Homo sapiens: one gene and its partners. The protein of the gene in region 3 interacts with the protein of the main gene of each other region in a pairwise test. Each region holds a gene or a part of one and is shown on either strand. Other genes may lie near its edges.

The links.
Region 1: the proteins of PNMA5 (region 3) and KIFC3 interact in binary tests that used the Homo sapiens proteins (3 or more experiments, as listed by UniProt).
Region 2: the proteins of PNMA5 (region 3) and CRACR2A interact in binary tests that used the Homo sapiens proteins (3 or more experiments, as listed by UniProt).

Annotation. Positions count from the first base shown.
Region 1 is NC_000016.10:57,800,541-57,804,140, reverse strand, and holds the start of KIFC3 (kinesin-like protein KIFC3), read left to right. Parts: upstream 1-1,649; 5' UTR 1,650-1,771; intron 1,772-3,600. UniProt on the Homo sapiens protein: Minus-end microtubule-dependent motor protein. Involved in apically targeted transport. Required for zonula adherens maintenance.
Region 2 is NC_000012.12:3,751,559-3,755,376, reverse strand, and holds the start of CRACR2A (EF-hand calcium-binding domain-containing protein 4B), read left to right. Parts: upstream 1-2,267; 5' UTR 2,268-2,362; intron 2,363-3,818.
Region 3 is NC_000023.11:152,992,467-152,996,284, forward strand, and holds the start of PNMA5 (paraneoplastic antigen-like protein 5), read right to left. Parts: upstream 1,651-3,818; 5' UTR 1,567-1,650; intron 321-1,566; 5' UTR 191-320; intron 1-190.

The DNA of each region.
Region 1 (3,600 bases), on a different chromosome or scaffold from region 3:
GAACAATAAATGTTATTATTAATTTAAAAATCTGGCTTTGGCTTTGGTGGGAAGGACCTACAGTTAATGTCAATGTACTCAATCCCTGAGTAAGAAAAAGTCTCCAGTTTTGAACCAGGACTTTAAAGACATTCTGTCCTCCCCATCCCCCGCCCCATCAACTCATAGGGACTATAATCAAGGGAGATAGATACTAAATCAGAATTCTAGAGACATTTTGCCTTCATCCACCCTTGCGGTCCCCTGGATCACTGCTGTTTGGAGGGCAGGCAGAGGAATTCAGAGATCATAACTCCCCAAATAAGGCTTTCTCTCCCATTGGAAGGGTTCTCCAGTGTGGTGTTCAGCTGGAAATCTAACTCTCTAGGGAATGATTCCAGGAGCGTTACATTCACCCTCTATCAGGCCTTCACTGAGGAATCTCAGTTGTCAAATAAAGCATGCACTAGGCTGCTTCCAGCTGGGGGACTGTGACTGTCCTGCTCTGGCGTCCAGAACAATCTGAGGCCCAGGCCCTTGGCTCCGTCGCTGGTCGAGATTCTTGACTGGCAGCCCAGCGCCTGGGCGGCAGCAGGAGATAGAACCCACCTGGAGTTGCCCGACCCCCTCCAGTCCTCTCCTTGATCTTCTTGGGCCATCCCCTGACAAGCAGGAAGGGACAGAGTACCCGCCCTCCTGGGATTATCTGCAGAACCGTCAGCCTGCATGGGCTGGCTTCAGAGTGACTTGCTTTCTCCTCTTCCGCACCCGGGGGTGTGGAGAGTGAGGGAGAATATTGCTGCTGGCTCTGGAATAAAATGCTGCCTCTGTTTGGGAGACAAAGAACAGAGTGGCTCCTCCAGGTCAGCTGTCTCTCCCGGCTGGCAGGCCCCTGGCCTCCCCCAGGCCTCTTCTGAGGCTCTAGGTGCCCCAGTAGCAGGGCCTTCTGCAGCAAGGCCGGGAACTGCTGCACCATTGGTGTGTTTTACCTTAAGGGACTCCAGGCAGCTTCCTTGCTGGGAAGATATTCATTTGCTGGGGTGGGGCTGGGGGTGCAGAGGTAGGAAGTGCTGTGGCTAGAAGGCGGCCTGGCCAGCGAGTAGGTGGTGGAGCGAGTGAGAGCGTGTGCGCTGTAAACAGTGTGAGTGCATGTGCGCCAGCGCGTGCAAGGACACGGTAAGGGATGTACATGTATTGTCTCGTGAGTAAGAGCTTGTGTGTGTGTTGGGATGGGAAGACACGTACTGGTATGAGAGCCCGCGTGAGAAGTGTATGTGTGAGTACTCGCGTGGAAGTTTTGCACTCGGGTTTGAGGCTGTGCAAAAGTACGCATGGCTCACCAGGTGTGGGGCTGTGTGGGCTGCCTCGTGTGTGCCAGCCCGTGTGCAGGCCTGTTTTGTGAGAGCCTTCAGGGAACGCATGAGCACGTGTGCCAGTGCGAGTGCGGGACGCGGGGAGGCGGGAGAGACCGAGTGGGAGGCCCCGCGAAGGAGTGGGAGTGGGAGTGGGAGTGCCGGCGGGAGACCTGCGGGGGCGCGCCCGGGCTGACGCGTGCGCGCCAGTGCGCGTGAGTGCGGGCGCGCGCCGCCGCCCCCCGCCGGGGTCGGAGCCGGTTGCCATGGGAACGCGCCGCGGCCCGAGTTAATCATTTCCTGTGGAAAGTGTGCGGGAGGGGCGCGAGCGGGCTGGCCGAGGAGGAGGCGGCGGCGTGGAGCTGCCTCCTGCCGGCGGGCCGGGCCGGGCCGAGCCCCGGGCGCTGCGGCGACGCCTGGATCCTGCCTCCGCCAGGCCGGTGAGTGGGGGGCCCGGGCGGGCTGGGTGCGAGCGGGGCGCTGGGCTCTGCCCGGCCCGCCGTTTGGGGCGCCGCGTCCGGGCCGGCCCTGCCCTCGGGACCCCTCTGCCCGGACCCGCTATGGGCGCGGGGAGGGAAAGGCCCGGGAGACCCAGCCCTGCGAGGTCCCCTCCAGCGCCGTTCAGCCCGAGTCGAGGACCTTGCTGGGAGCTGGGCACAGGGGCGGCGTGTCCCACGGGATCCGAGCAGCCTCGGGACCCCGTTTGGATTTTATTGAACGAGAAGAGCGCAGACCCTACCCGGGATGGGCTTGTCAATCGGCGCCGCCCTCTCCCCTTCCTGGCGTCTTCCCCACCCCCAGGGCTCCCTGGAAGGCTGCCTTTGGGTCCCTCCCACCACGTCCCTTGGGGAGTTCGCTTTTTCCCTGGCAGGGCCTGGGGCGGGGTGCGCCCGCCCAGAGGTTAGGAAGAAGGGCCTTGGCCGGTGCCCTCCGGGCAGTGAGGAATCGGGCCATTGACAGCCGCAGCAGTTGTGAGGGTCTCAGCAGGGAGGGCGATCCCAGGACCACCCCTTTAAGCCCAGCATTGCTAGTTAGAGCAGAACTCTGGCTGGTGCAGTGAAGGGCCTGGTCCTGGGAGATATTAAAGAGGAAGCTGTGTTTAATTAAATTCTGGAGTACCATTTACTGCCACCCAGCCCCCACCTCCATACCCCAACACTGTCTCAAGATTGCGGGTTGTGGCCACCCCTGGTCTTTCACCTTCCCCGGCTTTTCCTCTGCCTGAACAGGGTGAGCACCCATTCTTTCCCAGACGTGTATTCCCCATGCCCTTGTTAGAGTAGCCGTCTCCTTGACCAGGGAGAGTCATTTGCTAGGAATGCAGTCTCAGAATGGGGCCCTGCATTTGCAGTGAGTGGACTTTAGGGGCACAGGGTGGTGAGTTCTGCTGTTCACAGGGGCACCAGGGAGCAGAGGGTTTGAAATCTAGGTTGCCCTGGAAAGCCCAGGATAGATGATGGTGTGCAGGGAGGTGGCATTCCCTGTACAACTTCCTTGACCTTCTGCCTGCTCTCCCAGGGCGACCAAGCCCTGCTTGCTGCAGTCTCTGAGCAGCTGTCCAGCCTGTCCCCCCAGTCTTTGCAATGTCCCTGATCTAGGGCAGGGGGAGTATTGCAGCTCTGCTGTCCTGGTCTAAACCCAGAGAGGCAGAGACCCTCTTCCCCAGCCAGGCCCTCTGCATTCACCCACCACTGGAGCAAAGTAACTGAAAAATAAAATTTTGGAGCTCTTTGTATATGCCAGTATTGTTCTGAACACTTGGCCTTGTCTAATCTTTAGAGCAACCCTATAAGGTGGTGTTCTCCCCATTTTATAGATGGAGATAATGAAGTACGGAGAGGCAAAGTAATTCTCCCAAGGTCAGACATCTAGTAAACAGGGGAGCCAGGTTCTGAACCAGTCCCACTGCCCTCCCCCACGAATCCTAGGTTGGTAGAAGTCCCCGGACACCAGGTTTCATCTCAGATGCCCATGTAAATGAGAGAGAGTCCTGCTTTCTTGGCCCAGAACCCTGGGCTTAAGATTCCTTGATACTTTTGACCTTCACACCCCTGAGGCTGCTAAATTCAGCTGCTTTTTCCTCTTCGGGATCTAGCACACGCCCTTCCTCTTTCTTCCCGATATCTTCCTGGCTGCCTCCTCCACTTCCCTTCCTGATAACCGCAGAAACGCTATCTCCTCCTGTCCCTGCCCCTCAGACTGAGCTGAGCTGATCTCCCTGAAAGTCTTCTCTGTCCACTGTGGAGTCAGCCTCCAATGCCCTGCACTG
Region 2 (3,818 bases), on a different chromosome or scaffold from region 3:
TCAATAAATCCTCATTGAATAAACGAGTTTGGGTTTCTCCTGCAACACTGAATCATGTAATCATGGGGAAAGAGGAGGTGGAGATCCTCATCCTTCCCATGGTCCAGGCTAGCTCCATAGCCTGGGGCCAATCAGTGAGTATCAACTGTGCCTCAGTTTCCTACATCCATACATTGGAAGAACCATCTTTTCCCTGTCGCTTTTCTGCCACGGGCCAAGAGTAAAAGAGGCACGAATGTACAAGCTGAACTTGCAGCAGTTAATGTGATGGCTCTGTGATTCTGAAGGGCACCATGAGGCGTGGTGTTCTGTTAAAGAAAACGCCAGCAAATTAGAGACATCCCCATAGAAGCCAGAAGATGTGGTTAATGTTTGCAACATGAAATGTCTAGGTGTTCTGAGGTGGGCTAAAGGACAGTTGCTTTTCTTCCCTATTAAATAGGTGGTTAGACTCAGACACAAGGGAACAGGAAGCAGAATGGCATCAGAGACAAAGATGACTGCATGGAGTTTGGTGAGAAACCATCCTCAAAGCAGCAATTTTTTGGATGAGTCTCAGCCTTTCTGAGCCTCTGTTATTCCAACTGTGAAGTGATACAATTAACAATAACAAAAATTTGATAAGAGCAAATACATTTGGCATTTTTAATGAACCTACTACTATTCTAAGCCCTTTAAAGATACACATTTATTTCGATTCATAGAACACCCCATGATGCAGGAGCTGTTACTATCCACATTGTACTGATGGAGAAAGTTCCAGTAACTTGCCAAGGACGTAGCTGGCAAGTTGGAGCACTGAGATTCAAACCCAGGGCTTTGGCCTCCAGAGTCTGTGCACTAACCACTGTAATACCTCTGAGACTGTAAGGGGCAAATGAATGACAACGCATTGATTTAGAAGTGAAAGGCGATCTAAACGTGCAAGTATTAACACTATTAAAAACAACAATAACAATGGTAGGTACCTCCGATGCCTCTGACCTTATCTCTCTGGTCACAGTTTTCTGCTCTGTAAAATGGGTGGGCAGGCTTTACACTGGATAATCTCTGAGGCCCCTTCCACTTCTCAGATTCTGATAATGAAATGTCCTTCTTTCCTCACATAAGGCTGAGAGAAGGTCAAGCCACCAGCTTGCAGACCTTGGGAGTTGACACAGGGAAGCATACCCAGGACAGAGCCAGAAAAGCCAAGGCACGCAGTAGGGACACACCAGAGGGCAGGCCTCAGAGCCCCTGACAGCCTTCTGAAACTCTGGCAGGGTGGAGGGAGGTTGTGGGCTAGTGGCTGGCTGGGCTGCAAGGAGAAGAAAGGACTCCACAGAGTAATTTATAACAGCTGCTCAGTAAGTGCTAATTTGTTTCTCTCCACCTTGGAATAGGACTTAGCGCGTGTGAGAGGGGGATGCTACTACATAAACCAGTACCAGAAAGATGGGCTTGCCAGGAAAGAACTGGGGCACTCTGCAGGGGCAGTGTCTGGGGAAGGGTTCTCCAAAAAGGTGACATTTCAGAGGGGCCTGGATGGATGAGTAGGATTTCAACAGGCAGAGATGAAAGGGGAGGGTGTTCCAGGCAAAAAGAAGAACTCCCAGCAGCCATGAAGAACAGCTGGTGTTTGGCAACAGCTAGTGTGTCCAGAGCGAAAGTGTTGTGTGTGTGTGAGGGAGAGAGGGTGAGGCTGGAAAATTAGGTTGTGGCCGGAGAGGGCAGGGTGGGCCTTGCCTTGTGCGCTAAGCTGAGGGGTTATCCTGCAGCCGGAGCACCTCGGGAGGCCTTTGAAGATTTACTCAGTGCTTTATTAACAAATACGTATTGGGTTTTTGGTGTTTTGTTTTGTTTTTAACGATTCATGCCCACAGTAGAATATATAGAAGAGTCAGAAAAGTATAAAGAATAAGGATCCCCTTTAGTTTCTGCTCCCAGAGGTAACAGCCGGAGTGACGCCGGGCTGCTGCCGGGTTTTCGGGGGTGCACTCCCAGACACCACCTCTCCAGTGAGCCAGCGAGGGCCGGACTGATGCCCCACCTTGGGAGCCTGAATCGGGGCAAGGGGCCTAGGGAGCAGCGGGACCCCGGAAGCCCGACCAGTCAGGCCGGCTAAGTCGGCAGCCGCCCCGCCCTCGCCACCCAGCCTCCCTGGCGGCCTCAGGTCGCGCCTGCAGGCCCGGACCCCACCGCTTGGCGCGCGCACGTCCCGGAGGGCGTCCAGGGGGCGCCGCTTCCCGTTCAGCTCCGCTGAGGGGCTGGTCCAGCCCGCGCGGCTCGGAGCGGAAAGAGTCGGGCGGAGCAGGCGGCTGCTTGACAGCTGAGAGCCGAGCGGGCGGCGCGGGCAGGTCCACGGGAAGCCTACACGCCCAAGGTAACGTGGAGGAAGGTTGAGGGTGGGCGGCCGGGGCGGCCGGGGGGCGGCGCTTCCTGCCTGCTCCTCCGGCTGCGAAGTGTGAGCGCGTGTCTGCCGCACATGGAACTCGCAGAGGGCCTGGATGGAGGCTGTGTGCCCTTGGGGGGGAACAGCTGGCTCCCCTGCCACCCCCAGGCCTGGCCTGGCCCTTGCTCCCCTCCCTGTCACTCGGTAACGGGACTGGAGGAGAGCCGAGAAGCACTAGGGTTTTGGTCAGGAAAGGACCTTAGGAACCCTCCAGCCTCATCCAGCCTCTTCATTTCACAGATGAGGAAACTGAGGCTCAGAATGGTAAAGTGACTTGCCCAAGGTCTCAAGTCTAAGAACCAAAACTCCTACCTTGCAGGTCAGTGCTACTAGGAGCCCTGGCCACGCAGGCAGCATCCACAACTGTTGCCATGCCGAGAAACAAAGAACCGAGACAGACAGTCAGAAAGACACAGAGAGAGAACCTCCCAGAGCAAAGGAAGGAGGTCAGGAAGTGGGCGGCTGCTGGGGCTTGGCTTCCGCCCTGGCCCCCGCGTGTGCTGGCCTGGCTGTGTGGCTCAGAGGCGTTGTGCTGACTCTGTCCGTGTGTGTGTGTGTCCGTGTGTGTGTGTGTCTGTGTGTGTGTGTCCGTGTGTGTGTGTGTGTGTCCGTGTGTGTGCGAGTGTGTGTCTGTGCACCCATGCATGCACGGGATGCAGCGAATGTACCCTGCCACGTGGGAAAGCCCTCTGAGTTCATTTATCTGTTTACACAGTGTGCTTAGGAACCTGCCCTGTTTGGCTCTGTGGAGGACACCAGGAGTCTCAAAGGAATTCGTTCTGTGTGACTCAAGAGGACAGAAAGAGCCAATCCGTGGGAGTCCCCAGGGTGGTCAGAGGGTCAGGAGGAAGAACCTAACTCATGAGGTGATGGGTTCCTTGTCTCTGGAAGAAAGCAGCATGTACCGAAGAGTCTTTTTATCAAGGATGTGGGCATAGGGATATGAAATCAGAGCAGTTTGCTCCACGTGGAATCAGCATTTTTGTTGAAGGGTCCAGAGTTCATGCCCCTTTTCAGGTGAAATGAATATGTACAACCTCATGGTTTAGTATTTGCCCATAAGAGCTACTTCATGCGCAGTTTTTAAGTGATAAGTGAGAGGCTTCAGGTATGGCTTCCGAGGTCCTGTCACCTCTCGGTTCTATAAGTGAGAGGCTTCAGGTACGGCTTCCGAGGTCCTGTCACCTCTCGGTTCTATACTATAAAGTGTGTAGAGGGAGTTTGGAGGAGGGAGGTTACTTCTGGAAGGAGTGACTCGCAGAGGGCGTCCTGGATGTGGCACTGAGGCCGGGCCTTGAATAGGAGGCTGGGTCTGGGCATCTTGGGGAAGGACGGCTGAGCAAAGCCGTGAAGGTGGGTTGTACCTGAGGAGCAAGGAGTAATGTAG
Region 3 (3,818 bases):
AAGCTGAAATCAGGCAGAAAAGGGACCCAGATAAGGTCCCCACTGCCAGACTGCAGGAAACCAACAACTCTTGCCCTAGAGATGGCCCTACCCTGCAGAGTCTGTGAACCCTGGCAGGCAGTCCCCTCTCCCCACTCTTTGCCAGGGTTCCAGAGCCCCTCCCAACAGGGCCCAACTCACAGCTGCTCACCTTGCTGGGTTGGCCCTGCTGGCAGCGCGGATGCTGCAATAACACAGCCACTTCAGACTCGCTCTGCTTTTCAACTCTATCCAGTTAGGCAGTTCCTGACTCAGGCGTGATGGGTCCTGCTTCACTGGATCTGTCCAAGGCAAAGCAGAGGTATTTTGCTGTGATTCTGTCCCACACACATGTCCCTGCCCAGGCCATGCCAATTCAGACTCTGCATAGGTGTTCACTAGGACCCTGGTGCAGGGATAGAAGAAACTGCTCAACTGACAGAGGGAGCGGAGCGGGGGGAGGAGTCGGGGGACGAATGGTGAGAGGGGTGGGAGGTGAGGAGGGAGGTAGGGGGTGGGGGCAGGGGGGCTGCTGGTAGGGCAGAAGGGATCCTAAGGTAAGGTTGCTGCCCTACCCCCACTGCAAACTCCATTCCCTCCCAAGCTCCGCCCCTACAGCCATGTTGCAACCCTTCCTAAGCCCCACCTCAAAACCTGCACCCCTGCTGCCAAACTCTGCCTATAACTAAGTTGCACCTCTACCCCAAGCTTAGCCCCCCACCAAGTCTAACCCCTTCCACCACCCAAGTCTAACTCGTGCCTCAAGCCCTGCCCCCACCCACAGTCCAACTCCTACCCCAAGCCCTGCCCCCTCACCAAGTCCAACTCCTACCCCGAGGCAAGTCTAACTGATATCCCCAAATCCCCTACCTCCATTCCCCTGCTCCCCCCAATCCCCACCCGGTTATCTACATACACCCACACCACCGACATCAGTGGAAGCAGGCAGAATCTAGGAGGGGAAGGTTCGAAGCCACTTTCCCTCAAGGGCAAGGGCCAAGAGCTACTATCCTGACTGCAGTGTCTCCGGGCAGGTCAAGGGTGGAATAGGTCTCCCTGAAGTTTGTTTGTTTTTCTCTGAAACGGAGTCTGGCTTTGTCACCCAGGCTGGAGTGCAGTAGCGTATCTCGGCTCACTGCAACCTCCGCCCCCTGGGTTCAAGTGATTCTCCGGCCTCAGCCTCCTGAGTAGCTGGGATTACAGGCGTACACCACCACGCCCGGCTACTTTTTGTATTTTTAGTAGAAACGGGGTTTCCCCATGTTGGCCAGGCTGGTCTCCAACTCCTGACCTCAGGTGATCCACCCGCCTCGGCCTCCCAAAGTGCTGGGATTACAGGTGTGAGCCACCGCGCCCGGCCAGGTCTCCCTGAAGTTCTGCCTGGAAATGGCAGGGATTCCTTGGCGTGCTGGGTGTGATCTAGTGGGATCCCGCCTCCAGGGAAACCTATGGCCACCAGCCCCTAGACCCCGTGGAAAATAGCAAGAGTTACTGGGGGGTTCCCCCGTAATCTGGGTTGCTGTCCGAGCCCGGGGTCCAGCTCCGTACCTGCCGGAGGTGCCTCCAAGCCGGAGTTCCCGCGCAGCGCGACCACCACACGTCTATGGCGGCTGCCGCCTCCGTGCTGACTGCGCCACGAGGCTGTGGCGGGAAGAGGTTGTCTGGTGACGACCGCCCCCCTACCCCATGAGCGGAACTGCACACGGCCCGCTCACGGTTGCGCACTGGTGACATAAACCCTCCTACTTCCTGCAAGGTGGTTCCTCACCCCACCCACCCCCGTGCCGACGACGGTGGCAGCCAGGCTCGCCACGTGCCATTTGGCCCAGCAGCCACTGTGGCTCTTCCTCATTGGAGGGGAGCTGTGGCGTCCCAAGCCCATGGGTGAAGGGCCGGGTGCAAATCACCCAGTGCAACGTATAGGCCACGTGAGCGCCCTTATAAACGAGTCATAGCCCTCGTTTATTTTTTATTGGACTGTTCTAGGGGAGGAGGGCAAAAAATACAGCTACTGCCTGCATTTCACAAGGGCATTAGTTTTTTTTCGCTGCTCACTGAGAGCCAGATGACTGAAAATATTCCATTCTCCCATTATTCTCCTGATTTCACGACCAAACATTACGCACCTAGTACCCAAACTGCTTCCTGTCGTTTCCCAAAGCAGGTTTCTTCCACAGAGGGAAGGTCCTGCGGCTTGCAGCGGCCCGAAAGTACTGTTCCAGAAAAGGGTGTGGGTGCGGCACAGGTAGCACACTTCAAGGTGCACACAAATCCCCTGGTAATCTTAAAAAAATGCGTGAAGAGATCTGAGGCAGGGATGGTTCCACTGAAAGCTAGGTTACTTGCTGCATATCCCTGCCCAGGCTGTGTGGAGCAAGGGTCTGAAGCCTATGATTACATTTCAGGGCCAGAAGTTGTGGACCTTTAGTGACAGAATATATTTGTTTTTCTTTCTCTGTGATTAAAAAAGAAAAGGCTTTTTCTGGTACTGTTTTAATAAATATGTTAAAAGCGGACAACATTTTAAATTTATGGTCACTGAGAAAGATATTTGCAGATATCACCTTCTTCAGCCAGGTGTGGTGGCTCACACCTGTAATCCCAGCACTTTGGGAGGCCAAGGTGGGCAGATCACTTGAGATCAGCCTGGCCAACATGGCGAAACCCCGTCTCTACTAAAAATCCCAAAATCAGCTGGGTGTGTAATCTGAGTAGCTGAGTAGCTGTAATCCCAGCTACTCAGGAGGCTGAGGCACGAGAATCGCTTGTACCTGGGAAGCAGAGGTGGCAGTGAACCCAGATCACACCACTGCACTCCAGCTTGGGCAACAAAGTGAGAGCCTGTCTTTTTTTTTTTTTTTTTTTGAGAAGGAGTCTCACTCTGTCACCCAGGCTGGAGTGCAGTGGCGCGATCTCGGCTCACTGCAAGCTCCACCTCCTGGGTTCACACCATTCTCCTGCCTCAGCCTCCCGAGTAGCTGGGACTACAGGCGCCCGCCACCACGCCCGGCTAATTTTTTGTATTTTTTAGTAGAGACAGGGTTTCACTGTGTTAGCCAGGATGGTCTCGATCTCCTGACCTCGTGATCCACCCACCTCGACCTCCCAAAGTGCTGGGATTAGAGGTGTGAGCCACCGTGCCTGGCCGAGATCCTGTCTGGAAAAAAAAAAAGACAATTCAGAGCCCATTAAATCAATCTCCTTCATGTGACAAGGAGAAAATAGTGCTGAAAGCCATTGCTTAGCTGCCTGGTATCACAACATCACAGAAGGTGATGTTTTGGAAAGAGGTTCTGCCTCAGTCACCTCTGGGCTACTGGGTGCTCCCCTGGCCAGACGTATACTTCAATTCATTCTATTTCTCACTAGAAGACTAGCTTCCTCTCTCTCTCTCTTTTTTCTGTCTCAGTCTGTTTTGTGCTTCTATAATCAAATACCTGAGACTGGGTAACATATAATGAACAGGAATTTATTTAGCTCATGTTTCTGAAGGCTGAGAACTCTAAGATCAAGGGGCTGCACCTGCTGAGGGCCTGGCATGCAGGCATCAAGACGTGAAAGCATGTGTAAGAGTGAGCAAAAGAAAGAGAAGAAAGGGGCCTAAACTCATTTTTTAAAAAAAAAATCAGGAACTCACTCCCACAATAACAAATCCACTCCCGAGATAACAGCATTTGTCCATTCACACTGGCAGAGTCCTCCTCACCTAATCACCTCTTAAAGGTCCCACTTCTCAACAGTTGTATTGGGGATTAAGTTTCCAACACATGAACTCTGGGGGACACATTCAAACCATAGCA